Linked DNA regions of Homo sapiens. The protein of the gene in region 2 binds, or shares a complex with, the protein of the main gene of each other region. Each region holds a gene or a part of one and is shown on either strand. Other genes may lie near its edges. A codon is read from its position in the direction of its gene.

Region 1 (8,086 bases), on a different chromosome or scaffold from region 2:
GAGCCCACCACACGGCAGGGCATATGCTGACCACCTGAAATCAAAACAAACACTCCCTCCAAATCCATCCTTTCCGACTCCTTACCCCAGGACAGACTGGGGGCTGCCAACAACAGGGCAGGGGCTCAGTCTCGGTTCCACAGCCCCAAGCTTAGGTGGAGACTGGGCCCCTTCGCCCTTCAGTTCCCCCATCCCCAGCTAGTCATCAATTCTGAGCCTCGGAGGAAAGCCCGGCCACAGCCTGTCGCCCCGCTGCCTCTCAGCAACGGCAGTTCTCTCGGCCTCTGCGGCTCCTTCGCGCCCTACATCAGGTATTAATATATTACTCATGGCAGCTTCTGAGCTATGAAAGCCCAGCCGTTTTCAATAGAGAATGGTATGGATGAATTCTACAGGAGTGATGAAATGTTTCTTCTGCTCCGGCAATTAAGACAGCATAAAGTCGCCTTTCCTTTGGTGCCACCCCCAACATTAAAGGATTGGAATTCAAAGCCATTCATGCTGCATTGAAACCTCACAATGAAGCTGGAGAATGGAAGTCGATTACTGGGCATAAATATGCAGTAGTTAAAAGGAAAGAGTTATAACAAAATTAAACTGCAGCAACCCCACAATGTGTGGAAACTTCCAGCACTAGAGTCCTCCTGGTAAACATCCATAGGGCATTCTTCTCAACGAGGTCTCTGGCCACAGAGTCCAGATGGGCTGCCTGAGCCGCACGTGGCCAGCGTGCCAGGTTGTCCTGTCCATCTTGCTACAGCAACAGCCCCCAAGGCCTCCGAGAATATGGCATTTGGGGATTTTTATTTTGCATGGCTAGGAAGCTGCTGAACACAGAACATTCTCTCTGGTGCAGGGCTCCGAGGCCACATCTGTCCTTCGTCCCTAGGCCTTCCAGGCCCATATGCAGTCCAGTCATCTTCCCTCCACCCCGTCCCCTTAGCCCAGGGCTCCCCCGGGGGCATGCCTGCTGCCAGCTCCCCTTGCAGGAGAAAGAACCCTAAAGAGGGCAGCGTTACATCTGCCTGCTGAGTACAGCCGGCTTCTTTTCTAATTGATTACTGCTCTCTTTAGGATGGGATTTGATCTCTAAAATAAAAGCCCAGAACACAGAAAGCTATAGAAGTCTTACAATGTGTTGGGGTGTGTGTTTTTAAGGCATGAAAATACTTCCCTCCCACACAAATGTGAGTTCTTCTGGGGAAAGATGCCACAGATCCCAGAGAGTAGAATATCTGGGAAAGCCCGATCAGTCTTAAAAATAGGTAATTGAACACAGATTTTAGAATTCACAAGAGCTACCTGAAAAAAAATTAAATTTCACATATTTTTGATATCCAAAACTCCATTCTGATGAAACTTCTAACTCGGTGGCATTTTGCATTTCCAATTATAATAGAGTAATTGTGTTGCCATAGTTACTGCAAAATTCTGCAATAACTTTTGTTGCTTTGTAACTGCTGTAGTGTATATTTGTGTACAAGCAGCTGAGTTTTCTTAATTCGATCTCCCTCCCTTCCACCCTCCCTCTCCCCAGCCACCACCACCACCTTTCCTGGCTAGGTCCTGAAACCACCACACCAGCCTTCTTTGGACAGTCCCGAAAATAATGCACAGAATTATCAGAAGCAATTAAAACTCCAGGCAACCACGATCATATTACAAAAGAAAAAGTGAAACCAGGTCAAGGTGCAAACCTGCCAGTATCCCCCCAGTCCTGCTGGGCTGGCGCTGGGCCAGGACTGTTTACAGGCTTACTCCCAGGCCTTAACTGCTTCGGTGATTTGTGGGAATAAACAGAAAAGCCTGAACAGAGAAAAACGGGGCGGCAAAGTGACTGCACAGGCCCTTTCCTCCCTCACGGAGAGCAAGCAGAACTGCTCTCAGCAAGCAATTAGGTAGGTCTCTACAGTCATGCAATTAGGATTTAGTGAAGAAAGTCATTAGTTTTAAAATAACTTAAGTTTAATTTCTGCAACGCTTTATTTGAAAACTGTGTCACAGCAGGTCAATTTACAACATGCAATAAAGAAAACACTCATATCAGCTGCCTCAAGTTATTACAAATTTTTGATGTGCATTAAATGAGTACACTGGGTTCCACCCCCGGCCTTTCCAACTGATACGCACGGTCTCCTCCTATAACAGTGTCAAATAATTCAACGCTCAATGTAAATACGAGATAATTTGCTTATGATTCCGTGGTGTGTTTTCGCAACGCCGGCAAACGCGGATCCCACCCCCGAGCGGGACCGGGCCCCGTCTCGGCCTGCTGGCGCCCTGCGGGCTGAGCCGAGCGGGTCCCGGGCAGCCCCCCGCCCTCCCGCGACCCCCCGGGCGCTCGCAGCGGCGACGACAAGCGCGGGGCCGCGGACCCCCGGCAGGGACGTTTTTCTGCAAACTCACAGCATTTGACAAAGTTACATAAACGGCGCCCGGCCGGCCCCGGCGCCCGCCCGCCCCCGCCCTCACTCCCGGCGGCCCGGAGCCCACCTGCTCGGGGGGCGCGGGCCCCGCACCGGGAGACGGCGCCGCTGCCTGCCGTGCCCACCCCCGCGCCCCCGCCCCGGCGGGCGAAGCCGCCTCGCGGCGCGGGTGGAAAGGTCCAGAAGGGGCCGGGCGGCCCTGGGGACCGGCGGGTCCCACGGCGCGCGGCCAGCGCTGGCCCCCGCCTCCCACGGCCGCGCGCGGGGCGGGTGTGGACCGGCGGCGTCCACCTGCCGCGGGCTCCAAGGCCTGCAGGCTGCGCGGGGCGCGGGGCGGGCGGCGGACAATGGCCCGCGGGCGCCGGGCCGGGGCTGCGCTTACCGCGGCGGGCGGCGGCGGCCGGCTCTAGCCCTGCTCCGGCGCTCCGCGCCGCATCTCCTCAGCCTGCGCCGCCACCCGCCGGCGCGCGGGCTCGGGCTCGGGCGGCGACAGCCGGGACGCGGCCACGGCGCCGCCGGGGGCCCAGGCTGGGAGGCTGTTCGGGCGGCGGCGGCGGCGGCGCGGGCGGGTGCGCGGGCTCGGGCTCGGGCTCGGGCGGCGGCGGGGACGGTGCTCCGCGGCGGCGGCCCCACAACCTCCCCTCCTCATTCACAAAAAATTGACCCACGTTGAACCATGATGCTTCTCCCCACTCCAGCGTCGAGCCAGGCGGCGATAGGCCACCCCGCACGCCCGTCAGCCGGCCCGGCCCCGCCCAGCCAGCCGGCGGCTCGCCAACCATTGGCTGCGGCAGCCTTGCGTCACCTCCCCTTGCGGGCCCCGCCCTCCCGCCTGGTTTCTAATGAAGAGCTCGTCAATTACGGCTCGGCCCCGCCTCCCGCCCGCCCGCCCCGGGCGCCTGGCCGGCCTTCCATTGGCCCGCTGAAACCTGCGCACAGCCCGTCTGCTCCCACCCCTCGCCCAGCGGCTGCTCAACCGCGGGGCCGGATGCCCTATGAGCGGCAGAGAGGCTCCACCCCTGCCCGCCTCCCCGCACGCGTCCTGGACCTCATTGGCTGCTGGAGCTGCCAATTCTAGAGGGTGGGGCGTACCAAAAGACGCTCCAGGCGCCAGCCGCTGGGTGCTTCGCGGTTGAGGAGGCGCAGGGACCGGGGGCCAGTAGTGGCCGTAAACACGGGCCCCGGCCGTGTCCGGTCGCACTCGGTAGCCCGCATGGCTGCCTAGCGGTCAGCACCGCATGTCTGCGAGCCTAATTCGCGCTTAGAGGGCACACAATGGGGTGCAGGCTAACGCGGGGAGCCGGCCAGGCCTCGCCGCGGCGTCCATCTTGGATACTGGCAGTGGGTCACGTGGTGCTGCGTGCGCACGGAGGCGCAGGGCGGCCCGGTCACTGAGTGCGCAGGCGCCGTGGGCCTCGCCCTGCCCCGCGGCGGGAACGCGGCCGTGAGGGTGTGGGGTGTAGGTCCGCCAGGCCTGCAACGGCTGCCGAGGGTCGTGGGATGCGCTCGCCGCGTCCCTGCTCAGGCGGAGGGAGCCCGGCCCGCCGCCAGGGTCTCGAGTCCGGGTCCAGGCAGGCGTGGAGGTGGCGGGAACGGCGCACCGCCCGGGTGGGCGTTGTTTTAAGGCCGCAGGGCTTGGGAGGCTTGTGTTGAGTTACAGGTCGGCCCGTAGATCCCCGGAAGCGCCTTTGGTTGCCAGCAGGTGTCGGCGAGGGTCTTCAGTGGCCACCCTCCTGGTGGTGATGTTTCCGTTTCTTTCCAACAGGAGTATGACAACTTTTCAACTTGAGTGCACACACTGTCCCCGGAATCCCGCGTTCCAGGGAGGAAGCGCCTTTGACAGCGCGCGCCGGTTCGTGGGGCCCGACGGCGTGGGCCTGTGGTTGCGGACCTGGCGGAGATGCGCGTTCGCTTCGATTGTAGGCCATTCCTTTTAGGAGCTGAGAAAGGATCCGTTTTTACAGCATTCTCGACCTGTGATTCTTGGTGGGGGAAACTAGTTATGTGGATAAAAATACAGTTAGCAAAATAAAAATGCCAATTTTACATTTCCTTAAATATCTCATTAATAATTAGAAAACTTTGGTCATTGCAAGAAATGCTTAGGCTAAACTTAGAAGGAAAGGAATGGTGAATTAGAGAACTTTAAAACAAGATACAGCTGAAGAAAAGGAGAGCAATTACGGGGTTTTGGAGACTTGGCTGCTGATGGAAACGGTGCACTATCTAATTTTCATGTAGAATGAAACAGGGTCTGTAGCTAGCTAACATCTAGATAAGATTCAGTATCATTTGACAGGATTCTCAAAAACATACAATCACGAGAAAATATTAAAACCTGCCTGTAAGTCTACCAAAGTTAGTTTTTCACGTACAAAGAGAAGTGCCTGCGCAAAAAGTCACGTGAAACGAGCTCTGGGATCTAATGCTTGCAGAGGTAATTTTTAAAAAGTAGATTTCCATTAGAAGGAATGGGTAGCCCCATTGCTGCGTGCCATTTAGTCCTCACAGGAGTCCTGAGAGGCACTCCAGCAGAGTGAGGCACCACGCAGACGTTGGGTGGATGGTGCAAGAACCTCACTCGCCATGTCTGGAAAAGAGAAACTTGGCCTGGGTGGCTGTGTCTGCCATTATGTGTCAGAGGGGCTGTCTGAAGGAGACCGGTGCACAGCCAGTGCAGAGCAATTCAGTACGATAGTGTGCAGTGAAAGCAAACACGCTATCCTGTGAGCTGTGTATAAGGAGAAAGGTGGGGTGACAACCCCAATGCCTGGGAGCATTCGCGCTTGGGACTTCACATACAGGTATTTGACAGAGTCAAATGAATCACACTCAAAGGAATCTCCGTGTTCTCACAGTTGAAAGAAACCAGCATCAAAGACTCAAATTTTAAAATCTAGGGTTGGTGGATCCAATAAATTGGTAGAACTCCTAGACTGGCTACGATCGGCAAGCTGGCCAATTATAAAATATACAAATAACAGTAACTTTCAGATAACTGACAACATTCAATCGGTAATTAAATAATTGTTGCATATTCAGTATGTGGTGAGCTTTGTGCTAAGCACTTACATATGTGTTAGAAAATATGAAACATTCTCAATTAGCAAAAACATTTTAAGTACCTAAATGTAACAGTAAGTTCCAACAGAACTTCCTGGGAATTGTGAAAATCGTTAAATAGTTCATCTGGAAGAATAAAGATTTGAGAGCAGTCAAAAAGAAGAGTAATGAAGGAGAAACTGTGCTTCCAGAAAATAAAAACATGTTATCTGGGCTCCGAAATGAAAACAACGTGATATTGGCCCAGATCAATGCAAAATAATAGAAAGTAAAGGAATGGCCCCAAGCAAATGTACTGACTCCAGGCTGATACCCAGCCGATATGTGTATGATCAGTGTGCTCCAGCTGTTCTTAATGGGCAGCTTTGCAGGCTGGTCAGTGCCTGTGCCTCACCAACTATTGACTAGTTTTAATACCACCCCTGTAGGGATTTAAAGTATAATGAAAGTGGCTTTTCAAATCAGTGAGAAAGCAATATGGTAGGGTACCTGCTAATCATTTGAAGAGAAGATATTAAAGTTGAAATCTTTACTCATCAAATGGAGTAAAGACTTCAGTTTTAAAAAAAGTACTAAGGAAAAACTCTGGACATCTCTATAGGGTTGTGGAATATAAAGAATATTGTCAACAGTCATAAAGGGAAATAATTGAGAATTTAGCTATGTTGTAATTAAAATTTAGTGTATAATCAGTGGGAAAATGGATAAACCCCAACTGCAAAATACAAGGGAATATTACTCAGCAATAAAAAAGAATGAACTGTTATAGACGGTTGAACGTCAAGAACATCATAAAAGATGTCAGATACAAAAGGGTTTACACTGTATGACTGTTAATATGAAATTCAGCCAAATATGGGGTAGAGATCAGAACAGTTCTCTCCAGATTGGGGGCCTACAGAGGGTGGACTGGGAAGGACACGAGAACCTTCCCGGGCAATGGAGATAATACACTTTCTGTCTGGGGTGTAGATCGCATAGGGGTACGTACCGATCAAAACTCGTTGAATTTAAGAGCTGTGCCTTTCTCAGGAAGATTTTAATTCAGAAGAAAAAAAAATTGTTGAAGGCAGTGGCTGCCCCAGTTTGGAGGGGAAGGGGGGACTTCTGGTGCTTCAGAACACAATAAAATTAAGACAAGTGAGTGGGGAAAGCGTTTGCGTGGGATTCGTAGAGGCTGATCTTCACAGGCAGGAGGGTTTTCAGAGCGGAGCAGCCCATACATAAAGCAGGCAGGGACAAGGAGAGGCAAAGACAAAAGAAGAAACGCCCATAAACATGACAGGATGTTCTCTAATAAAAGAAGTGCAATGCTTTGTTTGATAAAAGCAAATGTGTGGAAATAAACGCTATTATACAGCAACTGAGTGTCAACTGATAGAAACTTTCAGACAGCTACTTAACCACACTCATAAATAAAACCTGCAAAATTTGCACCTTCTTTCACCTAGTGATTGCAATTTTAGAACCTCATTCAAAGAGACAAACATGGATGCTGATAAACATTTAGCTAAAAGGTCCACAGAAACAATGGTTGGTTGGGATGAATATGTATGCATATATCACCAAAAATAAGGGGTTTTATATCAGGGAAAGAAATTCACTTTATAGTTTCAAGGGAAAAGAAAGACAAGAAGACCTCATTACAATGTGATGTAATTTTTACAAATGAAAGCATTTATAGACACAAAAACAATGAGGAAAAATGTGTCCTCTTCTAAGTGGAAAATGAGAGATTCTTGTTTTCTTTTGCTCACTTGTTTTCTTAATTCTTCAGTGAACATGTTTTTCTTTTGTAAAAAAATAATTATTTAAAAAAATTCAAGAAGGACATGAAGTTCACTAAGGAGACAGCAAGGTCTGAGAGACTCTGTCAAGCGGGCACGAGCCGGGGGCTGTAGGACAGATGTGGGAGGTGCAGCCTGGGCTGCAGTGGAGGGAGCAGGGGTGGGGTAGTTCAGGGCTCTTCTCACAGCCCTAAAACTTTCTTTTTTTTATTATTATTATACTTTAAGTTCAAGGATACATGTGCACAATGTGCAGGTTTGTTACATACGTATACATGTGCCATGTTGGTGTGCTGCACCCGTTAACTCGTCATTTACATTAGATATGTAATGCTGTCCCTCCCTCCTCTCCCCACCCCACGACAGGCCCCGATGTGTGATGTTCCCCAGCCTGTGTCCACGTGTTCTCATTGCTCAATTCCACCCTATGAGTGGTACGCACTATTCACAATAGCAAAGACTTGGAACCAACCCGAATGTCCATCAATGATAGACTGGATTATGAAAACGTGGCATCGATACACCATGGAATACTATGCAACCATAAAAAAGGATGAGTTCATGCCTTTGTAGGGACATGGATGAAGCTGGAAACCATCATTCTGAGCAAACTATCACAAGGACAGAAAATTACAGCCCTAAGACTTTCAACTCTTCCATATCTTTCAGCGGACCCTCTGCCCTCCAACACTTTAACCCAAGACCTGCTCCAGATAGGGATGACACAACCAGCTCATTGAAATAAGTAGCAAGAGACCAACAAAACAGCTGGTGATGGACGCTCCCCTGGGTCCCCTTGCCCAGCTTTCA
Region 2 (7,736 bases):
ACTGCACAATACAGTACTTCTGTCCTGGTTACCCACAAAGAACTATCATTCTGCACAGATCCCAATAGTGTTAGCACTAGGATAATTTCATTAAACTCAAATAAATTTTAATCCCTTTATCAACAGGATGATTTCGGCCTTAAAAGAGAGCTCACTTGAGTGGTAAGATTGGTTTCTTTCTCTGCAGTTTCCAAATTCTCCACGATGACTTTTATAAACAGGAAGAAAATTTCTTAGGTAGTTGCCATTTTGGAACACCTACTACATTTCTTATTGAATCCGCACAACTTTTTCAAGTATTGTCCCATTTTACAGATGAGGAAAATGAGGGACAGAGCCTATTTCCTTAAAGTCACAGGAAACAGATTTGAAAAAAGGTTTTTATTTTACAAACTGTTCTTTCCTCTATACTGTGAAGGAGCAGAAGCACAAATCTAGTAAAAAACAAACTTCCCAAATCTCAACTTAAAAGGTTTTGGAACGGGTTTTCATTCCCTACTAGTAACTGAAAATGACTCAGTAGGAAGTCATCATTTTTTTAAGGTTTTTATTAAAACCTGCCAAATTAATTATCTGCAATAAACACAAGTATACATCCCATCTGTGCACTAGTGTCATAAACTATATTCTTGTTTAAAATTTCTTTTATTCCATAAATTATCGTTTAAAATTTCTACTTTTATTCCATCATTGCCCAGTATTTTAAATAAATGAGATGAATGTTTAAAAATATAAAAAAGCATCTTATAAACTTTTGTGAGAAAGCTAGCAATAGGGTGAACAAGGCCTAGCTAGAGGTCACAGATTTGCATGTCTAAGGGTAAATGATATCCTTATTTTTTGGACTAATTCTCATCTAGTGGAATATGAAGTGCTCGATTCCACCTGGCTTATCGGCTAATTTCTGCATTACCTTGGATAAATGCCATTTGCACACTCCCTACCAGCCCTTAGGTGCATTGCAGCCTCTGTGTCATTGTGTGTGACATCACTTGGTTGCTATGGATATAGGTGCGAGGTCACTCGCTTTCCTGTGGAACTAGAAATATGGAAAAGAAATATGGAAAAATTATAAGAGTCTAAATAACACGAACTGAAGATATTTCCAATACTGATACCTATTAGAAGTGCAACTTACATCATTTAAGCATTAAAACCTTGTAAGACAGCAACTGTGGCCACAGCAGTATTCCGAATTTCAGAATCAGTTCTCTTCAATAAGACAAAAACCTTTCTTTGTTAACATAGCTGCTTTAAATATAAAGGTATCAGCATTGTCCTCTTTTGAGAACCAGTAAATTTATTCAAGAATTGATCTGTAATATCAATAATGCTTCATTTAAAAGATGTAACACGCAAGGTACACTCCAGCATCCACTTCACAATGGAGATGAATTTGAAAATCTTTGTTACATAAGGCAGGAAATTAAATATTAAGATAGTGGGGGCCCGAAATCATTAGATTAATTTTCTACCTTTCATTTCATAATGCTCAATACTTCCCCCTCCTCTAATATCAAACTGGTTGACAGCCCATTAGATAAATGTGGTGTTACTGACAAAATGGTGCAATACAGGGATGAATCTGCAACCCAGACAAAATGCGACAACTGGCGATCGGTATTCTCTTTTCATCAGCATGAAGATGTACTCGCTTAAACAAAAAAAAGCCTCAGATGCATCTAACAACCAAAAATTTTTAAAAAGACTTTTTCCCCTTTAAAATAACTCCTCCCAGCCTCCACCCAGTCTAGGCTCTCTGCAATATGACAAATGCAGAATCTTCTGGAATGACTTGATACTGCCTCTCACCACGGCTTTGTTTGCACTATCAGATCAGACAGAATATTTTTTCCCCCAACTTATAGGAATTTCAACAGACGCGTGCCTGTATTCAAAAAAGAAACGGCATATGTCACACGAATCGAACCAGTCAGCTACATTCACCACCTTTTAATTTTACAGGCAATACCTACCCTTTTCAATACAAAAACATTAGGGAATAAAATGGAGATGACATGTTGAGAATGATCAATGAAAACGCTAGCGAGACAAACGTTCTCCCTTCCTAAAAGCCGGAGGACTTGCTTTGGGCGAATGGAGAAAGAAGAGCCTTTTGTTAAGAAAAACGTGAGCAAGGTGGTTTCGATTTTGCACCACGGAGCTCAGGTTTTCAAGAGACCCTATACAATGTTTCTGGGAAGATTCTCAGGGATGTGTCGGGACAGACAGTGGGGAAGATTCTGGGGGGGCTGGGGAGGTGGAAAACCGGGAGACCTGCTGAGTGAATGGGAAAGGCGCCGCCCAGACACCAGGGAGAGAAAGAGGAACCGCATCCATGCGGTCCCCCGCCCCCACGCCCAGGCTAGGAGGAGGGGGGAAGTGGGGCACAAAGGATGCGCACGCCTCCCCGCTCGGGTCCCCTGCACCCCTAGAGCCGCGGGGGCCGGAGACCCCGCTCCCAAGTCCAGCCCCGCGGGACCTCGCCCCGGCCCGCGCCCGCGCCGGGCCTGAATGGCAGCGCCGCGGGGCCACGGGGACTCCGAAAAGAGGCCGCGTCACAGCCCGGGTTCCCGTCGCCTCTCGGGACCCTCCCCAGCCCCCCTCAGTGAGCGAGACGGGGCGGTCAACCCGCCATCGCGACAGGGCGACGAAGCCCCGGGCCTTCCACGCCAAGGACCGCGTCTTCGGAGGGGCAGGGAGCGGCGGGGGAGGGGAGGAGACACTCACGTTCTTCATGGCCGCGGCCATGTCGTCGTAGCGCTCCGCCTGCTCGGCCAGCCGGGCTTTCTGCACCAGTTGCTCGCGGTCCACCATCTTCGCGGGGCTGGGTCTGGCCGGAGAAGGAGGAGGACACTGGGGCGGCCTGAAGGGCTTGGAGGGCGCGACTGGAGCCCAAGTGCCGGAGAGGACCGACCCACAGAGCGAGCAGCTGAGGCGGCGGCTGCGCGGAGGAGGCGGCTGGAGCTGCGACCGCGGGACCGGGCGCGAGGCGGCTGCGGCTGCTGTGCGTGCCACTGACGGACAACCCCCTGCGGCCCCGCCCACGCCGCATGACGAAGGCAGGCCCCGCCCACCCGTCCGCAAGCCCCGCCCATGCCCCGCCCGAGCCCGGCCGCGGCTAGAACTCCCCGCTCCCCAGCTGGGCTCACTGCGCGTCTTCCGGGCACCCCGTCCTTTCCCACTGCGCCCCCACTCTCCCCTTTTTTCACTTCACTCCCCAGTTCCCTCACCCCAGCTTCTCCAGTCGCCCCCTTACGCCTCCCCCTTGAGCCTCCCGCCCCGCCAGCCCTCGGACGCATGGGCCCCTGGGAGTTGTAGTGTAACCTGCAGTGCACTGAGGCGCTGAGGAGACCAAGGACAAAGGGGCGGTCAAGACTACAACTCCCAGCGGACATAGCGCGCAGGCGCAGGAGGACGGGGGGGGGTGCTTCGAATCCCGAGGCCGCTGGGGACCCCTGGCGGGGATCAGGGCTGCATCAGTCCCTGCGAGTGCTGATTCACCGCCCCGCCCCATATTCTCCGGGAAATTACGAGAGGAGGGGGCAGGGGCCTCAGTCCTAGACCCTGTTTCCGAGATCACGTAGCAGGTCGTGGTGGGGGAAGGACAGGAGGCGCGTCCATTGTAGATCCAGACTCTCAGTGTGGTGCCTGCCCGCGGGATGGCCGAATTAAGGGGCCAGACCCTGGGGACTGTCACCTCCACCCCCTACGAGCTTCCATTAAACCCCCCACCCCACCTTGAGGCTCTTGGGCCTGAATAGGTGAAAACATGGACGAACGACAAATACCGGCTGGCCACAGTGGTTGATTTCCAGAAAGGATGCAGCTGTCTGCTGGCTGACCCTGGAGAACCCCTTCTTCCTCTCCAGGGTGGAGTGCTAAAGATTGAGTTCAGCTACCAGGAGCCTACTCCACATCTAACTGGGCTGCGTCTAGGGCTTGGTTGTCCAGCCCTTCTCTCCCCTCCTAAGACATACATACCTACTGAGGTCACGCTGATATATTCTCGTTCATATTATTCCACATAGCTTGCAGATAGCATGGGTTTTTTTGCTTTGTTTTGCTTTTTTGTAGAGACGGGGGTCTAGCTTTGTTGCCCATGCTGGTCTCGAACTCCTGGGCTCAAGCGATCCTCACGCCTCGGCCTCCCAAGGTGCTGGGATTACAGATGTGAGCCACCATGCCTGCAGGCCTGATAGTTTTGACTGCACATTTTATTTACTTTATGTATTCAACAATTATCTATGAGAAGCTACTGTGTTCCAAGCCCTATTCTAAGCCACGAGGTACAGTAGTGAACAAAACAGACAAAAATCCCTGCCCAAGAAAATAGGTGAGATATGTACAGTATGCTAGAAGTCAGTAAGGAGTGAGTTTTGAGGTTGCAGTGAGCTGAGATTGCGCCACTGCACTCCAGTCTGGCGACAGAGCAAGACTCCGTTTCAAAAACAAATAATAAAATAAAAAGTTTTTTAAAGGCTGGGCACGGTGACTCACACCTGTAATCCCAGCACTTTGGGAGACCGAGGCGGGCGGATGACAAGGTCAGGAGATCGAGACCATCCTGGCCAACATGGTGAAACCCTGTCTCTACAAAAAATACAAAAGAACTAGCTGGGCGTGGTGGTGCCCACCTGTTATCCCAGCTACTCGGGAGGCTGAGGCAGGAGAATCACTTGAACCCGGGAGTCGGAGGTTGCAGTGAGCTGAGATCCCTCTACTGCACTCCAGCATGGGTGACAGAGCGAGACTCCGTCTCGAAAAAAAAAAAGAAGTGAGCTTTGGCCTGGCACGGTGACTCACACCTGTAATCCCAACACTTTGGGAGGCCGAAGCGGGTGGATCATCTGAGGTCAGGAGTTCGAGACCAGCCTGGCTAACGTAGCAAAACCCCATCTCAACTAAAAATACAAAAATTAGCTGGGTGTGGTGGTGGGCACCTGTAATCCCAGCTACTTGGGAGGCTGAGGCAGGAGAATTGCTTGAACCTGGGAGGTGGAGGTTGCAGTGAGCCGAGATCGTTTCATTGCACTTCAGCCTGGGCAACAAGAGCGAAACTCCATATCAAAAAACAAAACAAAAAAAAAGTGAGCTTTGCAGACTCTGCTGCTGCCAGGAGTACTCTACTACTGGCCATGGTCAATCCCACCGTGTTCTTTGACATTACTATTGAGCCCTTGGGCTGCGTCTCCTTCAAGGTTAGGGGCATGGAAACCAAGAAGCCAAGTGACCTCTCCGGAGCTTGCAGTGAGCCGAGATTGTGCCAGTGCACTCCAGCCTGGGAGACAGAAAAAGACTCCGTCTCAAAAAAAAAAAAAAAAAAAGAAGTGACCTCTCATCTAAACTGTAAAGCCATGTTAACATATCGGAGCTGTTAGCAGACAGTGTTGTAAAGACAGCAGAAAACTTTCGTTCTCTGAGCACTGGAGAGAAAGGATTTGGTTATAAGGGTTCCTACTCTCTCTTTTTTTTTCTTTTCTTTTTCTTTTTTTTTTTTTGAGACAGAGTCTCGCTCTGTAGCCCAGGCTGGAGTGCAGTGGTGCAGTCTTGGCTCACTGCAACCTCTGCCTCCCGGGTTCAAGCGATTCTCCTGCCTCAGCCTTCTAAGTAGCTGGGATTACAGGCGCGCACCACCACGCCCAGCTAATTTTTGTATTTTTAGTAGAGACGGTGTTTCACCATGTTAGGCTGGTCTCGAACTCCTGACCTCATGATCCATCCGCCTCAGCCTCCCAAAGTGCTGGGATTACAGGTGTGAGCCATTACGCCCGGCAAGGGTTCCTACTTTCACAGAATTACTCCAGGGATTATGTGTCAGGGTGGTAACTTTACACACCATAATGGCACTGGTGGCAAGTCCATCTATGGGGAGAAATTCGATGAAGAGAACCTCATCCTGAAGCATACAGATCCTGGCATCTTGCCCATGGCAGATGTTGGACCCAACACAAATGCTTCCCAGTTTTTCATCTGCACTGCCAAGACTAAGTGGTTAGATGGCCAGCATGGAGGTCTTTGGCAAGGTGAAAGCGAGCATGAATATTGTGGAGGCCATGGAGCGCTACGAGTCCAGGAATGGCAAGACCAGCAAGAAGATCACCATTGCTATGGCCGGGCGCGGTGGCTCACGCCTGTAACCTTAGCACTTTAGGAGGCCGAGGTGGGCAGATCACTTGAGGTCAGGAGTTCGAGACCAGCCTGGCCAACATGGTGAAACCCCTGTCTCTACTAAAAATACAAAAATTAGCTGGGCGTGGTGGTAGGTGCCTGTAGTCCCAGCTACTCCAGAGGCTGACGCAGGAGAATCGCTGGAACCTGGGAGGCAGAGGTTGCAGTGAGCTGAGATTGCACCATTGCACTCCAGCTTGGGCAAAAAGAGTGAAACTCCCTCTAAAAAATAAATAAATAAATAAAATAAAATCACCATTGCTGACTGTGGACAACTCTAGTAAATTTGACTTGTGTTTTATCTTAACCACCAGACCATTCCTTCAGTAGCTCAGGAGAGCACCTATCCATCCACCCCATTTGCTCCCAGTATCCTATCATCTTTGTGTTCTTGCTACAGTTCCCTTTGAGTCCCATGATTTTCTTATTCCCTTCCATGTCTGGGTGGATTGCAGAGTTAAGTTTGTGACTATGAAATAAAAACTAAATAACAACAAAAAAATCAATAAGAAGTGAAAAATAAAATAGGAAACATGAAGTGTGGATGAGAATGTGGAATGAAAGAGTTTCCATGGGGGAATATTGCAGGCTCTATGCCAGATGCTGGAGGACCCCTGTCCTCAAGGAATTCAGAGTGTGTTAAGCACTGTAAATATTTTGTTTAAAAAATAACTTCTTTCAGGCTGCATAGGAAGAGATTCTGAAAAGCTTCTCCAGGGAGTTTGGTAACATTTCCAACCCAGCCTTTAAATGAGTGTAGGATTTGAGAGCAGGCAAAGGCACAGGTAGCAAGACTCAAAGGCAAGTTCCTCCCTGACTTATTTATTTATGTACTTATTTTTTAGAGGTGGGGGTCTCACTATGTTGCCCAGGCTGGGGTACAGTGGCACGATCATAGCTCACTGCAGCCTCTAATTCCTGGGCTCAAGTGATCCTCCCACCTCAGCCTCCTGAGTAGTGGGGACTACAGGCATGCACCACCACACCCATCTCCCCTGAAATATTTATTGATAGGCAAAGAATCTGATGTATCTGGTGTCTGGGTGATGGGTAAGGGGCTGGGGATAGAGTCAGGGGCCAGAACATGAGGGGCACTGAATGGCAGCCCCAGGAGTTAAATTTCTATTCTGAAATTAATCGGAAGCCTGTGAAGAGATTTTAACAATGGCAGAAAATGATCAGATTTGGGTTTTGTCTTTTTCATCCTCACCTTGGCTTCTCAGTGCTCAGCAGAGTACCTGGCACATGATAAGTACATAGAGAGAGAATAGGAAATAAATAAATGAATATGGCCAGGTGCACTGGCTTACGCCGGTAATACCAGCAGTTTGGGAGGCCGAGGTGGGCTCATCACCTGAGGTCAGGAGTTTGAGACCAGCCTGGCCAACATGGTGAAATGCTGTCTCTACTAAAAATACAAAAATTAGCCAAGCGTGGTGGCGTGTGCCTGTAGTTTCAGCTACTCGGGAGGCTGAGGCAGGAGAATCGCTTGAACCCAGGAGGTGGAGGTTGCAGTGAGCCAAGATTGTGCCATTGCACTCCAGCCTGGGCGACAGAGTGAGACT
Region 3 (7,675 bases), on a different chromosome or scaffold from region 2:
TGTCCGGGCTCGGGAGCACCTCTTTGGCACCCACTGGCAGCTTGCTGCGCGGGAGGTAGCGGATGCAGGTTGGAAACAGCCCCTAGGAAATGAGAAGGTGTTTCCTGGAGGCCTGCGCCACTCAGCTTCCTGGCAGAGGAAGGAGCGTTTCCCTCATCCTGGCCCGGGTCCCGGGTCCATCTGCTCCAGGAAGGCTCTGGTGGCTCGTGATGAGCTGCCCTGTGAGAGGGAACAGGGTAGAGGCAAGGCCTTGGGGGATGGCCTCTGCCTGGATTTCATGGGGAAGGATGCAGGGCCAGGGCTGACATTTTGTCAAATCCAAGCAACTTTGCAAAAAAGTCCTCCTCTCACGCTCCGCCCTCTGGAATCGAATGCTTCACTGTCCTTCCCTGGCAGAGGGCCTGGTCCTGTGAGGGTTACATGGCCAGGCGGTTATCTCCGTGCTGGGTGCCTGATGAGAGCTCAGTTGAATGTTAGCCGTTGCTGTTTCCAGGCTAAACTATTGTCTTTTTGCATGATTTCTTCTGCACAGAGTGTTGGTAGCTTTCATCAGATCTTTGTAGGGTCTGTGACCCCCAAACCGTTCAGGACACTGGCCTAGACTCTAGGTGTCTGTGAGGCCAGAAGCCCCTGGATGCATCTCTTCCTGTCAGGGCCTGCGTCCCTGGGGCTCCTCTCTGCTGAGCTCTGGGGTTTCACGCTTGCCCTGCCAGCGCCGACGTCCCTGCCCGGGGTCTGAGCTGTCTCTCCTCTCCATCCTCCAACAGACCGCAGAGGCCGAGACTCCGTCAGAGCTGTGAGGGAGGCCCGGGCCAGATGCCAGCTTGCCAAGGAGGCCGATTAAAAGCAGCCTTGCTGGGGGCGGATGGCTCAGTGCCCTTGGCCTGGTGTAGAGTTCGATAAGCAATTGTTTTCCTGTTGGTGAGAAAAAAACAAATCTCCATTGACTTTCCCAGGCACTGCTCAGCCTCATTTTCTTCTCAGGAACTCTTGCAGCCCTATCAGAGGCAGCTCTAGGATAGGGGAGAGACTGACTGCCTGCCCTGGGGGACGCAGGCCACACAGCCAGGGCTGAGGGACACACTTAAGAGCAGGCCAGCTCGCTTGGACATTGGTCCTCGTGGGAACATTCCAGAGCATAGGCTACCTACCAGAGCAGGCCATGGGCATCTGTATTAGTCCGTTTTCACGCTGCTGATAAAGACATACCCGAGACTGGGCAATTTACAACAGAAAGGTTTAACTGGACTTATAGTTCCACTTGGCTGGGGAAGCCCCATAATCATGGCGGAAGTCAAGGAGGAGCAAGTCCGGTCTTACATGGACGGCAGCAGGCAGCGAGAATGAGGAAGATGCAAAAGCGGAACCCCCTGATAAAACCATCAGATCTCGTGAGGCTTACCACCATGAGAACAGTATGGGGGAACCCGCCCCCGTGATTCAATTATCTCCCACTGGGTCCCTCCCACAACACACGGGAATTATGGGAGTACAATTCAAGGTGAGATTTGGGAGAGGACACAGAGTCAAACCATAGCATCCAACAGGTGTTTGTTGAAGTAATAGTTTTTGAGTACTTAACCACTTGCAGGGCATGATTCTGAGTGCTTGGTTCATCTAATCCTATGACTATCAGATGGGCACCAACTTTACAGGATGTCAATGACCTTAAGCTGTTGAACTTCAGGGTATCTTGAGTTTCCTCTTCTGGGACATAAGGACCATGAGAAGGAGAAGTAAAGTAGCAGCAGCTAGGGCCATAGAGAAATATCAAACTTGAGTTGTATTCTCTCATTGATGGGGAAACTGAGACAGGGACAGAGTTGATGATTTCTTTCTGAGATACAGTAAGGGGGAATGGGGGACAGAGAAATAGGAGATAAGACCAACTGCTCCCCTCTCCTGACCTCCTGCCCCGTCTGATCCCGTAGCATCCTAGGCCTTATCATCATAACTCCGATCATGGTTACAGGTATTTTCTTTCCTTTAAAACACTTTTTATTTATTTATTTATTTTAGATGGAGTCTTGCTCTGTTACCCAGGCTGGAGTGCAGTGGCGCAATCTCGCCTCACTGCAACCTGTGCCTCCCGGGTTCAAGTGATTCTCCTGCTTCAGCCTCCTGAGTAGCTGGGATGACAGGTGCCCAACACCACGCCTGGCTAATTTTTGTATTTTTAGTAGAGATGGGGTTTCACCATATTGGCCGGGCTTATCTGGAACTCCTAACCTCAAGTGATCTGCCTGCCTTGGCCTCCCAAGGTGTTGGGATTACAGGTGCGAACCACTGCATCTGGCCTGAATTTGACTATTCTAGATACTTCATGTAACTGAAATCTTACAACACTTGTCCTTTAGTATCTGGCTTGCTTCACTTAGCGTATGTCTTCACGGTTCGTCTGTGTTGTAGTGTGAGTCAGAGTTTCCTTCTTTTTTGTGGCTGTATAGTATTCTGTTGTATGGCTCTGCCACATTTTGTTTATTCATTCGTCTGTTGATGGACACTTGGTTATACCTTTTGGCTATTGTGAATGATGTTGCTATGAACATTAGTGTACAAGTATCCGTTTGAATCCCTACCTTCAATTCTTTTGGGTCTATACCTAGGAGAGGAATTGCTGGTTATATGGCAACTCTACGTTTAACTTTTTGGGGAGCCACCAGGCTGCCTGATTGTAGTTTGAATTTGCAGTTCTCTTACTGTGAGGTTGAACATCTTGCCGCATGATTGGACTCTTTGGCGTTCTCTTACCACACACTCTGTGTGCATGAGTCAGGCCCGTGTCAGGGCTGGGGCGTTGGGTTTTCCCTTTTGCCTTTCCTGTTGGGCTTTCCCTGCCACGTGCCTGGCGTAGTAGCTATTTCATCAGTTCTTCTGGAAGGACCGTTCCGAGAGCGCTGAGGGCCATTTTCTGCCTCTCAGCCAGATCCTCCAGGGAGCTCTGGCTTTCCGCTGTCTGTACCTTCCTCTCTTTTACCCCACTACCTCCCAATGTCATCGGAGATACCATTTTATTCATTCATAAAATCTCTGCTGAGCCCTCACTGTTTTCCTGGGACATCTAGAGAGACCCCCCCCCCACCCCGCCCTTTTTTTTTGAGATGGAGTCTCCCTCTGTTGGCAGGCTGGTGTGCAGTGGTGCAACCTCAGCTCACTGCAACCTCCGCCTCCCAGGTTCAAGCAATTCTCCTGCCTCAGCCTCTCCAGTAGCTAGGATTATAGGCATGAGCCACTACACCTGGCTTATTGTTGTATTTTTAGTAGAGACGGGGTTTCACCATGTTGGCCAGGATGGTCCAGAGAGACCCTTTGTGATGTGGGTGATTAGCATGGAGTGGCCATCATCCACAGGTGTCTGTCCACAAATGTACTCCCTGAATTCCAGTGGTACCTGTGACATTTGTCCAGCAGAATTTGTCAAACACGTTAAGCAAAGGTTAATGTTCTGTCCCAGAGACGGTAAGAATTGACAGCCTAAGGGGATGTGTTAATCTTTTTTATTTTTATTTTTTGAGATGAGTCTTGTTCAGTCACCCAGGCTGCAGTGCAGTGGTGCGATCTCGGCTCAGTCATTGCAACCTTCACCTCCCGGATTCAAGTGATTCTCCTGCCTCAGCCTCCCGAGTAGCTGGGATTACAGGTGCCCACCACCATGCCCAGGTAATTTTTGTATTTTTAGTAGAGATGGGGTTTCACCAGGTTGGCCAGGCTGGTCTTGAACTCCTGACCTCAGGTGATCCACCTGCCTTGGCCTCCCAAAGTGCTGGGAGGATTACAGGTATGAACCACTGTGTCCGACTTCTCTCTCTTTTTTTTTTTTTTTGAGATGGAGTCTCACTCTGTCATCCAGGCTGAAGTGCAGTGGCGTGATCTCGGCTCATTGCAACCTCCGCCTCCCGGGTTCAAGTGATTCTCCTGCCTCAGCCTCCTGAGTAGCTGGGACTACAGGTGTACATCACCACACTTGGCTAATTTTTGTATTTTTAGTAGAGATGGGGTTTCACCATGTTGGTCAGGCTGGCCTTGAACTCCTGACCTCATGATCCACCCGCCCTGTCCTCCCAAAGTGCTGAGATTACAGGCGTGAGCTGCCGTGCCTGGCCTTTTTTAAAAAATTGAGATATAAGTTCATGTAACATAAGTTGGCCATTTTGAAGTGTATAGTTCAGTGGCATTTAGTACGTTCACAATGCTGTGCAACCATTACCTCTATCTAGTTTCAAAACGTTTTGATCACCCCAAAAGGAAAACCTGTGCCCATTAAGCAGCCATTCCCCACACCCACTAATGTCACCACCCCCATAGTCCTAGGCAACCATTAGTCTACTTTCTGTCTCTGTGGAGTTGCATATTTTAAAAATTTCATATAAATAGAATCATATATATGTGACCTTTTGTGACTGGCTTCCTTCAGTTAGCATAATATTTTAGAGGTTCATCCATATTGTGGCATATACTTGATTCCCCCCGACCTTTTTTTTTTTTTTTTTTTTGAGACAGTCTTGGTCTATTGCTGAGTTGCTGAGGCTGGAGTGCAGTGGCATGATCTCGGCTCACTGCAACCTCCGCCTCCTGGATTCCAGCGATTCTCCTGCCTCAGCCTCCTGAGTAGCTGGGATTACAGGCACACGCCACCATGCCCGGCTAATTTTTGTATTTTTAGTAGAGATGAGGTTTCACCATGTTGGCCAGGCTGATCTGGAATTCCTGGCTTCAAGTAATCTGCCTGCCTTGGCCTCCCAAAATGCTAGGATTACAGGTGTGAGCCACCGTGTCCAGCCCTGACCTGCATTGTTAATGCCCAGCATTTAAAAATAAAAAGTCAGGCAAACTTATTAACCTCCTTAGGGCTTCTCTTGGGAAAAACAAAGGGAAGACCAGCAATAGTAGGCCCAGATTCCTGCCGAGCAACAATTGGCTTGAGCTGGAAGCAGCTGTCAATTCTGTAGGGGATATGTGTGCTCTATTTGGGGGTTTTCTTATACTTGTTCCTATAGGAATTGAGTTAGGAATTATTGTCATGGTATGTGAGAAGTGGTTCCAGCTACTTGGGAGGCTGAGATGGGAGGATCACTTGAGCCTAGGAGTTCAAGGGTACAGTGAGCTATGATCGCACCACTGTACTCCAGCCTGGGCAACAGAGAGAGGGAGAGACCTTGTCTCAAAAAAAAAAAAAAGAAAAAAAAAGAAAAAATAATAAAAGAAAAAATATAAGAAGATGCAGACTCTGCTTTTCTGTATAGACTCAGAGATCAGATCACACCATGTTTTGCAAGATTTTTTTAGGATGTCAACTGGAGGCAGGAATTAGACAGCAGCCTGGGCCAGGAGGAGAGGGGATCCTTTCCTGTCCCTGCCCGTAGGAGCTGGGCCAGCTGACCCTTTCTCTTTCTGCAGGTGGCTCCGCTGCCGGATGGGAGTGCCCCAGTGTGCTGGATGAAGCTGGCGCATGCACCATGTCATCATGTGTCTCTAGCCAGCCCAGCAGCAACCGGGCCGCCCCCCAGGATGAGCTGGGGGGCAGGGGCAGCAGCAGCAGCGAAAGCCAGAAGCCCTGTGAGGCCCTGCGGGGCCTCTCATCCTTGAGCATCCACCTGGGCATGGAGTCCTTCATTGTGGTCACCGAGTGTGAGCCGGGCTGTGCTGTGGACCTCGGCTTGGCGCGGGACCGGCCCCTGGAGGCCGATGGCCAAGAGGTCCCCCTTGACACCTCCGGGTCCCAGGCCCGGCCCCACCTCTCCGGTCGCAAGCTGTCTCTGCAAGAGCGGTCCCAGGGTGGGCTGGCAGCCGGTGGCAGCCTGGACATGAACGGACGCTGCATCTGCCCGTCCCTGCCCTACTCACCCGTCAGCTCCCCGCAGTCCTCGCCTCGGCTGCCCCGGCGGCCGACAGTGGAGTCTCACCACGTCTCCATCACGGGTATGCAGGTGCGTGAGCCGGTGGTGAGCCAGGTCCTAGGGGTCCCTGGTGCCCTTCCCTGCCCCCAGCAGGGCCTCTGTGGAAGGTTGGGCTCCCCCAGAAGGATCTGAGTGCCACGGTTGACCTAGGAGTTGACTCCAGGGAACCTTGGGGGCGGCTGGGGCCAAAAAGGGGCCCTAGGGGGGTCGTGAATCAGCATGGGGAAGGGAAGGCAGTCAGCAAAGGGTGGGTCATGGAGCCGATTACCAGTGTGGAGTGTGGGCCGCTGGGGCTTTTTCCTTCCGTGGGACCCTGGGGAACAGCACAGAGCAGCAGCCTCAGTCATCCCACCAGGGGCAAGGGAGCTGGGGTATTTATACTCATGGGTGAGGGCTGCTGGGGCAGGTGTGTGTGACCCCCTGTGGGTGTGGACAGAGCAGTTGCAGGGCCGGAGGGAGCCTCCAGCAAAGAGACTGAGGTGTGGGCGAAGGTGTGATGGAATGAGGCGGGTCACTGAGAGCCTGGCGACGACCCGCCTGGCCGAGCGTGTGTTGGCACCAGGCACTGGGTTCAGCACTTGCTGTGCATTTCTCACAGGACCCTTACCGTAAACCCTGCGGGGATACAGAGAACTCAGATCCTCACCAGGGTTCACAGGGCCCTGTGTGGTCTGACCCTTTCCCATCCCTCCTGCCATTCTGCTGCCAGCTCCCTAAGCTCCCTCTGTTCCTGCCTTCACATTCCTCGGAATCCAAGCTCTTGCCTTGGGTCTGTACTCTCGCTGTTCCTTCTGCTTGGAACCACCTCCCCCACCACCCCATGCCAACTTTGTAAGGCCTATTCCGATAATGTCCAAGTCTCAACTCCAGTATCACCTCCTCCAAAAGGCTTCCCGGGCCACCATCCCTAAAGCACCCTCCAGCCTCTCTCTGCCCCATGGCCCTATTTGCTTTCCTTCATAACGTTAATCAGCATCTGATTATCTGTGCGTTGGTTTAGTTGTTTATTGCCTGTCTCCACCCAGCCAGAACGTAAGCTCCATAGGATCATTTCATCCACCTCCACACCCTATCCCATCCCCAGAGCCTAGCACAGTACCTGGTGCATAGTAGGAGCGCAAAAATATTTGTTGAAGGAACGAATGAATTTAATTGGAAGAAGACCCAACATCAGGATGCCTTTCTAAAGGGGCTTTTTTTTGTTGTTGTTGTTGAGACAGAGGGTTGCTGTGTTGCCCAGGCTGGAGTGCAGTTGCGTGATTTTGGCTCACTGCAACCTCCACCTCCCAGGTTCAAGCTATTCTCCTCCCTCAGCTCATGAGTAGCTGGGACTACAGGTGTGCACCACCATGCCCAGTTAATTTTTTTTTTTTTTTTTTTTTTTAAGTAGAGATGGGGTAATGCCATGTTGGCCAGGCTGGTCTCGAACTCCTGACCTCAGGTGATCCACCTGCCTCAGCCTCCCAAAGTGCTGGGATTACAGGCATGAGCCACTGTGCACTGCCAAAGGGGCTGATTTTGAAGGGGCTATAGGGACTACATTTTGAAGGCCAGGAAAAACTTTCATAATTGGAGATGAAAATTGGGCCCTGGAGAGTTGAGAGGAGGGAGAATTCACAGCATGAGCCAAAAACAGAGCTAGGACCTATGAGCAATGGCTCCTTTTTAGCTTAGCTTCTTTCACAGCATCATGATTTTGAGATTTATCCATGTTGTGGCGTATATCTGTAGTTCCTTTTTATTGCTGAATAATTTCAATTGTATGGACGTACCACAGT
Region 4 (7,675 bases), about 41 Mb from region 2:
ATTATGGTTACTCAGAATCTGTGCCCGTATCTTGGTGTCAGTGTATTTGTTTGCCTCATAGTATAGTTTACTACAAATGGAAAACTCTAGGATTCTGCATAATACTGGACAGAGAAGATGTAAATATCTGTTAGTTCCATCATAGACCCTGCCACTCCAATGTACACACCAGCTTTAGGCTTCTTGGTATAGATAAACATACATTTTCAAAATTTTTCATCATAATTTTCATAACAAAATAGGAAGGCAAATGATGTCACTTGGCTTAAAATCTATAATATTTAAAATAAACAGGACAAATGCATTAACATTGTTGGGGGAGGAGGTCCCTTAGTAGAAACACTCTTGGTCCAAGCATTTTAAAGCTGTCAAAGAGATGTAAATATAGATAATGTATGTCAAGGAGAGAGCTTTGTGGTTAAACTGTAACTTTCAGTTTAAACAATTATTGGTGACTCTGATGTCAAATGTTTCTCAAGCTTTATCTGAACAAAATTCTTCTCACTTTGTTGCCAAAGTCGTTAACAAGAAATCACATTGACTCATTGATGTTTTGGCTCCTTTCCCTTACTTTCTGTTGCTTTCCAAAAGCTGAGACAGGAAACTAACCCTAACTGAGCACCTGCAATTGCCTGGTAGTATTCTAGTCATGTGTGTACTTTTGTGTGTATGTAATCCCCTTACAGCTCTGCAAAGTAAGAATTGTTCTCCCTGCTTTACAGAAGAGATCATAAGATAATTGAGGCTGTTAGATGTTAACTTGCCAAAAGCCATACAGGAAAATGGTAGAGTCACAGTTTGAACCAGGTCCTTTTGATTCTTTACATTAAACCATGCTTTGATCTTGGAAATACACTGTAAGGCAATAAATCAATAGATACGGATAATTCACAGGCTTCTAAATAAATGGAAGTTGATTGTTTTTATCTGTGAGCCAAAGTAAGACTTATTCTAAGAATTCCACAAATTTAGATAAGATAGAGTATATGGCTTCTAGACATCCAACATAGAACTGAGTTTGTGTTATCAGTTTAAGATTTGGTTTTGCTGTAAGGTGCACACACTTTGAGGAACTAAAAATAATTGTCTGTTCTTATTCTGATCAGAATGTGTAATGTGTTGTCCAGTTTTGGATGATGAATTTCTTATTTCTAATCTCATAAGAAACTTGTCATAGATGTGAGGGAGAGAATTAAGAACAGAGTGTGGGGAAGAAACTGTGTACATTTTGATGGGATCCATTATGTAGCTCTTGCATACTGTCTTCAAAAATAAGTTACACTATAAAGGTTGTTTTAGACTTTTAAAGTTTTGCCATTGGTTTTTAAAAAAATTTTTAAATTGGCTTTAAAAATTTCTTAATTGTGTGCTGAATACAATTTTCTTTATTACAGAAGTACCAACAATTACATGTATAAACAGAGAATCCTATGTACTTGAGATATAAGTAAGGTTACTATCAATCACACCTGAAAAATTTAAATGTTATGAAGAAATTATCTCATTTCTATTAATATGGGAACTGTGTCTTCATCTTTATTACTGTTCTAAGGTCAACTCAATGTAGATTTTACTTGCTTATGGTTTCATATTTTAGCTAAATAGTAAAATAATATGGATATACATTTTGTTGTGACTTACTCATACTTTCCTTATTTGGAACTTTTATGAATATGATATAGAGACTGAAACTACAAGGAACAAAATGCAATATCAATTATACAGTTGTGGCAGCACTGCTATCAATTTGTTGATAGTGGTTAACACTTAGAAAAACATTTTAAAAATAATTTCACATAAGTAATGTAATTTATTAGCTGTCTCTGACATTTTACAGTTTGGAATAGTTTATTTTCTTTTTGGTGTCCTCACCAAAACCCAACATCTTCAAGGGCAGGAACTGTATAATTTTTGCCATTGTATTTTGAGCACATAGCATGGTACTTGCCTCTAAATAGATACTATTGTTAAAATATTTTTTAAGGTAATATTTTAAAGTGTATGCTATGGTACAGTTCAGTTTGTGACTTTTGCTAGTTTATGCCACTTACAGTTAGCAAAATCACTTCAGCAGTTCTTGGAATGTTGTGAAAAGTGATAAAAATCTTCTGCAACTTATTCCTTTATTCCTCATTTAAAATAATCTACCATAGTAAAAACATGTATAAAAGTGCTACTTCTGCACCACTTTTGAGAATAGTGTTATTTCAGTGAATCGATGTGGTGACCATATTGTAATGCATGTAGTGAACTGTTTAAGGCAAATCATCTACACTAGATGACCAGGAAATAGAGAGGAAATGTAATTTAATTTCCATTTTCTTTTTAGAGCAGTATACAAAGATGCTGATTTGTATTTATTAGACTCTCCTTTTGGATACCTAGATGTTTTAACAGAAAAAGAAATATTTGAAAGGTATGTTCTTTGAATACCTTACTTATAATGCTCATGCTAAAATAAAAGAAAGACAGACTGTCCCATCATAGATTGCATTTTACCTCTTGAGAAATATGTTCACCATTGTTGGTATGGCAGAATGTAGCATGGTATTAACTCAAATCTGATCTGCCCTACTGGGCCAGGATTCAAGATTACTTCCATTAAAACCTTTTCTCACCGCCTCATGCTAAACCAGTTTCTCTCATTGCTATACTGTTATAGCAATTGCTATCTATGTAGTTTTTGCAGTATCATTGCCTTGTGATATATATTACTTTAATTATTATTATACTTAACATTTTTATTTACTTTTTGTGTTAGTATTTTATTCTGTCTTCTCCTTAGATAGTAACCTTCTTAAGAAAATATATATGCTAAGTGTTTTACTGGTTTAATATGCTTAGACTACTCATCTACCTCAATACTTCCTTGGAGATCTCCTCCTCAGTCACACAGAGCTCAGGACTTATATTTCCTTGGAACTCCTGTTAGGGTCCAATGTACATGAAATTCCCTAGACAGACAGACAGTCAGTTATATGGCTTGATTTCAAAGTTTCAAAATGATTTAATGGACTATCAAGTAGTTTATTAGGAGAACAGTTATTATACTCTTCTAAAAATAAAGACTTTAAGCAATAAAGATGTATATGTATATAAAATGGCTGGGTTATTCCTAGAAGTACCTTTCTTAGAATTTAGTTAAATTTAATATCCAAGATACTATCTTTTCAACCCTGAGATTGTGAAAAGTAACTTCTATCAATATAAACTTTACTACATTTGTATTGTGTTAGTGTGTTACAGTATAATCTAGAACAATGTGTCTTTCTATATGATATATGACATTTTAATGCCTAAAAAAACTGATATGTCTTAGATGATTCTAGTCAGGATTTACTTCTAGAATAGATTAAAATTCTATTTGAGGAGAGTCAAATTAATTATCGAATTCTCAGTTGTTATTATTGCTGTTTTATTTTTAGTGAAACAGATTAGTCTTAATGTAAACACTTGAGAAATAAATTGATGGTCAACCTAAAATGTAAAAAAGAAATTAATAGAAAATTTAAAGAGCAACAAAGCTCTGACATTTAAAAGAAATGAAGTACAAATCTCTAGGGACCTTAAAGATCATCTAATAATTTCCTCATTTTCTAGATAAATAAACTGAGAGACCCCGAGGATAAATGATTTGCTCAAAGTCAAATATCTACTTAATATAGGAAATTTAATTTCATTCTCAGTCTGTTAACATGCAACTTTTCAATATAGCATGTTATTTCATGCTATCAGAATTCACAAGGTACCAATTTAATTACTACAGAGTACTTATAGAATCATTTAAAATATAATAAAATTGTATGATAGAGATTATATGCAATAAAACATTAACAAAATGCTAAAATACGAGACATATTGCAATAAAGTATTTATAAAATTGATATTTATATGTTTTTATATCTTAAAGCTGTGTCTGTAAACTGATGGCTAACAAAACTAGGATTTTGGTCACTTCTAAAATGGAACATTTAAAGAAAGCTGACAAAATATTAATTTTGCATGAAGGTAGCAGCTATTTTTATGGGACATTTTCAGAACTCCAAAATCTACAGCCAGACTTTAGCTCAAAACTCATGGGATGTGATTCTTTCGACCAATTTAGTGCAGAAAGAAGAAATTCAATCCTAACTGAGACCTTACACCGTTTCTCATTAGAAGGAGATGCTCCTGTCTCCTGGACAGAAACAAAAAAACAATCTTTTAAACAGACTGGAGAGTTTGGGGAAAAAAGGAAGAATTCTATTCTCAATCCAATCAACTCTATACGAAAATTTTCCATTGTGCAAAAGACTCCCTTACAAATGAATGGCATCGAAGAGGATTCTGATGAGCCTTTAGAGAGAAGGCTGTCCTTAGTACCAGATTCTGAGCAGGGAGAGGCGATACTGCCTCGCATCAGCGTGATCAGCACTGGCCCCACGCTTCAGGCACGAAGGAGGCAGTCTGTCCTGAACCTGATGACACACTCAGTTAACCAAGGTCAGAACATTCACCGAAAGACAACAGCATCCACACGAAAAGTGTCACTGGCCCCTCAGGCAAACTTGACTGAACTGGATATATATTCAAGAAGGTTATCTCAAGAAACTGGCTTGGAAATAAGTGAAGAAATTAACGAAGAAGACTTAAAGGTAGGTATACATCGCTTGGGGGTATTTCACCCCACAGAATGCAATTGAGTAGAATGCAATATGTAGCATGTAACAAAATTTACTAAAATCATAGGATTAGGATAAGGTGTATCTTAAAACTCAGAAAGTATGAAGTTCATTAATTATACAAGCAACGTTAAAATGTAAAATAACAAATGATTTCTTTTTGCAATGGACATATCTCTTCCCATAAAATGGGAAAGGATTTAGTTTTTGGTCCTCTACTAAGCCAGTGATAACTGTGACTATAAGTTAGAAAGCATTTGCTTTATTACCATCTTGAACCCTCTGTGGGAAGAGGTGCAGTATAAATAACTGTATAAATAAATAGTAGCTTTCATTATTTATAGCTCGCAAAATAATCTGTATGGAAGTAGCATATATAAGGTATATAAACATTTAGCCTCTTGATAGGACTAACTCACATTCTGGTTTGTATATCAGTCTTGCCTGAATTTAGCTAGTGTGGGCTTTTTTTTATCTTGTGAGTTTGCTTTATACATTGGGTTTCTGAAAAGATTTCTTTTAGAGAATGTATATAAGCTTAACATGTACTAGTGCCAATCTTCAGACAGAAATTTTGTTCTATTAGGTTTTAAGAATAAAAGCATTTTATTTTTAAAACAGGAAATAATATAAAAAGGAGAGTTTTTGTTGTTTTAGTAGAAAACTTAATGCCTTGGATGAAATGAGCCATGGGCAGGGTTGTAATGAATTGATATGTTTAATAGTATAGATCATTTGTGAATAATATGACCTTTGACAAGACACAAGCCATTAACATCTGTAGGCAGAAGTTTCCTTCTTTGTAAAATGAGGGAATAAAATAGATCCCTAAAGTGTGTAATTTTAGTATTTCTAAACTTTATGAAGGTTTCCTAAATGATAATTCATCTATATAGTGTTTTTTTGTGTGTTTGTTTGTTTGTTTGTTTGAGATGGAGTCTCGCTCTGTCACCTAGGCTGGAGTGCAATGGTGCAACCTCGGCTCACTGCAACCTCTGCCTCCTGGGTTCAAGCTAATCTCCTGCCTCAGCCTCCTGAGTAGCTGAGATTACAGGCATGCACCACCATGCCGAGCTAATTTTTGTATTTTTAGTAGAGAAGGGGTTTCATCATGTTGACCAGGCTGGTCTTGAACTCCTGACCTTGTGATCCACCCACCTCAGCCTCCCAAAGTGCTGGTATTACAGGCGTGTGCCACCACGTCCAGCCTGAGCCACTGCGCCCAGCCCATCTATATAGTTTAATATCAATCTAAATGAATTTCTCAGTCCTGAGCCTAAAAATTTAGTTGTAAAGAATGATATCCTTGACTAATAATAGTTTCTATTAATGGATTGCATCTAGTGCTAGGTGGCATATATTTAGTCCCCACAACTACCCTGGAAGGTATTTAAAATTTTTCACATTTGCAGATAAGGAAACTAAAGTTCAGAGTTCGGCAACATGCTTGAATTCAAGCAGCTCCTAGGATGTTAATGGTGGAGGTTGGGTTCAAATCCAGATCTGTCTGACTCAAAAAATGCATACTCCTAACCAGTGCACTATATCCCAATTCCATAGGAGCCCTTCTTTGTGATTCATAGCACTTTCCCATGAGTTTTGTTGATTTTGTGAGAAACAAAACTCTTTTTCCTTTGGACTGTCTGGAATCTCTCTTTTTCAAATTTTTGAAATGTATTTCTATGCCAAAAGACAAAGATTTCTAGAGGAATATGCCTAGGATGAGAATTATGTAATTTAAATCACAGCTGGAAAGAGAGAAAGTCCTAAGTTACTAAGAAATGTTCAAACACAAATGAGCTTTCAGTCTATTGGAAGACCTTTATAGCTAGAAGTATACTGAACTGTACTTGTCCATGGACCCCTGAAGAAACAGGTTAAATCAAAGAGAGTTCTGGGAAACTTCATTTAGATGGTATCATTCATTTGATAAAAGGTATGCCACTGTTAAGCCTTTAATGGTAAAATTGTCCAATAATAATACAGTTATATAATCAGTGATACATTTTTAGAATTTTGAAAAATTACGATGTTTCTCATTTTTAATAAAGCTGTGTTGCTCCAGTAGACATTATTCTGGCTATAGAATGACATCATACATGGCATTTATAATGATTTATATTTGTTAAAATACACTTAGATTCAAGTAATACTATTCTTTTATTTTCATATATTAAAAATAAAACCACAATGGTGGCATGAAACTGTACTGTCTTATTGTAATAGCCATAATTCTTTTATTCAGGAGTGCTTTTTTGATGATATGGAGAGCATACCAGCAGTGACTACATGGAACACATACCTTCGATATATTACTGTCCACAAGAGCTTAATTTTTGTGCTAATTTGGTGCTTAGTAATTTTTCTGGCAGAGGTAAGAATGTTCTATTGTAAAGTATTACTGGATTTAAAGTTAAATTAAGATAGTTTGGGGATGTATACATATATATGCACACACATAAATATGTATATATACACATGTATACATGTATAAGTATGCATATATACACACATATATCACTATATGTATATATGTATATATTACATATATTTGTGATTTTACAGTATATAATGGTATAGATTCATATAGTTCTTAGCTTCTGAAAAATCAACAAGTAGAACCACTACTGATATTTTATTATTTCATATTACATATAAAATATATTTAAATACAAATATAAGAAGAGTTTTTAATAGATTTTTAATAATAAAGGTTAAGAGATTCGAAAGCTCAAAGTAGAAGGCTTTTATTTGGATTGAAATTAAACAATTAGAATCACTGTTGATATTTTATTATTTCATATTACATATAAAATATATTTAAATATAAAGATAAGAGTTTTTAATAGATTTTATAATAAATGTTAAGAGATTAAAAAACTGAAAATAGAAGGCTTTTATTTGGATTGAAATTAAAGGCCAGGCATGGTGGTTCATGCCTGTAATCCCAGAATTTTAGGAGACTGAGTGGGGAGGATTGCTTGAGCCCAGGGGTCAAGACCAGCCTGGGCAAC

Evidence for each region.
Region 1: the proteins of YWHAG (region 2) and HDAC4 are in contact, whole or in part, in a crystal structure (PDB 3UZD), measured with the Homo sapiens proteins. Residues at the interface, in NP_036611.2 of Homo sapiens: Asn43, Leu44, Ser46, Val47, Lys50, Asn51, Arg57, Phe122, Lys125, Arg132, Tyr133, Gly174, Leu177, Asn178, Val181, Glu185, Leu221, Ile222, Leu225, Asn229, Trp233; in NP_001365345.1 of Homo sapiens: Ser348, Pro349, Ser350, Leu351, Pro352, Asn353, Ile354, Leu356.
Region 3: the proteins of YWHAG (region 2) and CAMKK2 are in contact, whole or in part, in a crystal structure (PDB 6Y6B), measured with the Homo sapiens proteins. Residues at the interface, in NP_036611.2 of Homo sapiens: Ser46, Val47, Lys50, Asn51, Arg57, Arg132, Tyr133, Gly174, Leu177, Asn178, Val181, Glu185, Ile222, Leu225, Asn229, Trp233; in NP_001257414.1 of Homo sapiens: Leu99 (codon at 5,751), Ser100 (codon at 5,754), Leu101 (codon at 5,757), Gln102 (codon at 5,760), Glu103 (codon at 5,763), Arg104 (codon at 5,766).
Region 4: the proteins of YWHAG (region 2) and CFTR are in contact, whole or in part, in a crystal structure (PDB 5D3E), measured with the Homo sapiens proteins. Residues at the interface, in NP_036611.2 of Homo sapiens: Lys50, Arg57, Arg61, Lys125, Arg132, Tyr133, Leu177, Asn178, Val181, Glu185, Ile222, Leu225, Asn229, Leu232; in NP_000483.3 of Homo sapiens: Arg766 (codon at 4,440), Gln767 (codon at 4,443), Ser768 (codon at 4,446), Val769 (codon at 4,449), Leu770 (codon at 4,452).

What each region holds. Positions count from the first base shown.
Region 1 is NC_000002.12:239,397,884-239,405,969, forward strand, and holds the start of HDAC4 (histone deacetylase 4), read right to left. Parts: upstream 3,138-8,086; 5' UTR 3,095-3,137; exon of another isoform or gene 2,494-3,094; intron 1-2,493. UniProt on the Homo sapiens protein: Responsible for the deacetylation of lysine residues on the N-terminal part of the core histones (H2A, H2B, H3 and H4).
Region 2 is NC_000007.14:76,355,992-76,363,727, forward strand, and holds the start of YWHAG (14-3-3 protein gamma), read right to left. Parts: upstream 3,001-7,736; 5' UTR 2,818-3,000; coding exon 2,731-2,817; intron 1-2,730. UniProt on the Homo sapiens protein: Adapter protein implicated in the regulation of a large spectrum of both general and specialized signaling pathways. Binds to a large number of partners, usually by recognition of a phosphoserine or phosphothreonine motif.
Region 3 is NC_000012.12:121,272,308-121,279,982, reverse strand, and holds part of CAMKK2 (calcium/calmodulin-dependent protein kinase kinase 2), read left to right. Parts: intron 1-5,397; 5' UTR 5,398-5,456; coding exon 5,457-5,927; intron 5,928-7,675. UniProt on the Homo sapiens protein: Calcium/calmodulin-dependent protein kinase belonging to a proposed calcium-triggered signaling cascade involved in a number of cellular processes. Isoform 1, isoform 2 and isoform 3 phosphorylate CAMK1 and CAMK4. Isoform 3 phosphorylates CAMK1D.
Region 4 is NC_000007.14:117,588,024-117,595,698, forward strand, and holds part of CFTR (cystic fibrosis transmembrane conductance regulator), read left to right. Parts: intron 1-2,329; coding exon 2,330-2,416; intron 2,417-3,910; coding exon 3,911-4,634; intron 4,635-6,906; coding exon 6,907-7,035; intron 7,036-7,675. UniProt on the Homo sapiens protein: Epithelial ion channel that plays an important role in the regulation of epithelial ion and water transport and fluid homeostasis. Mediates the transport of chloride ions across the cell membrane.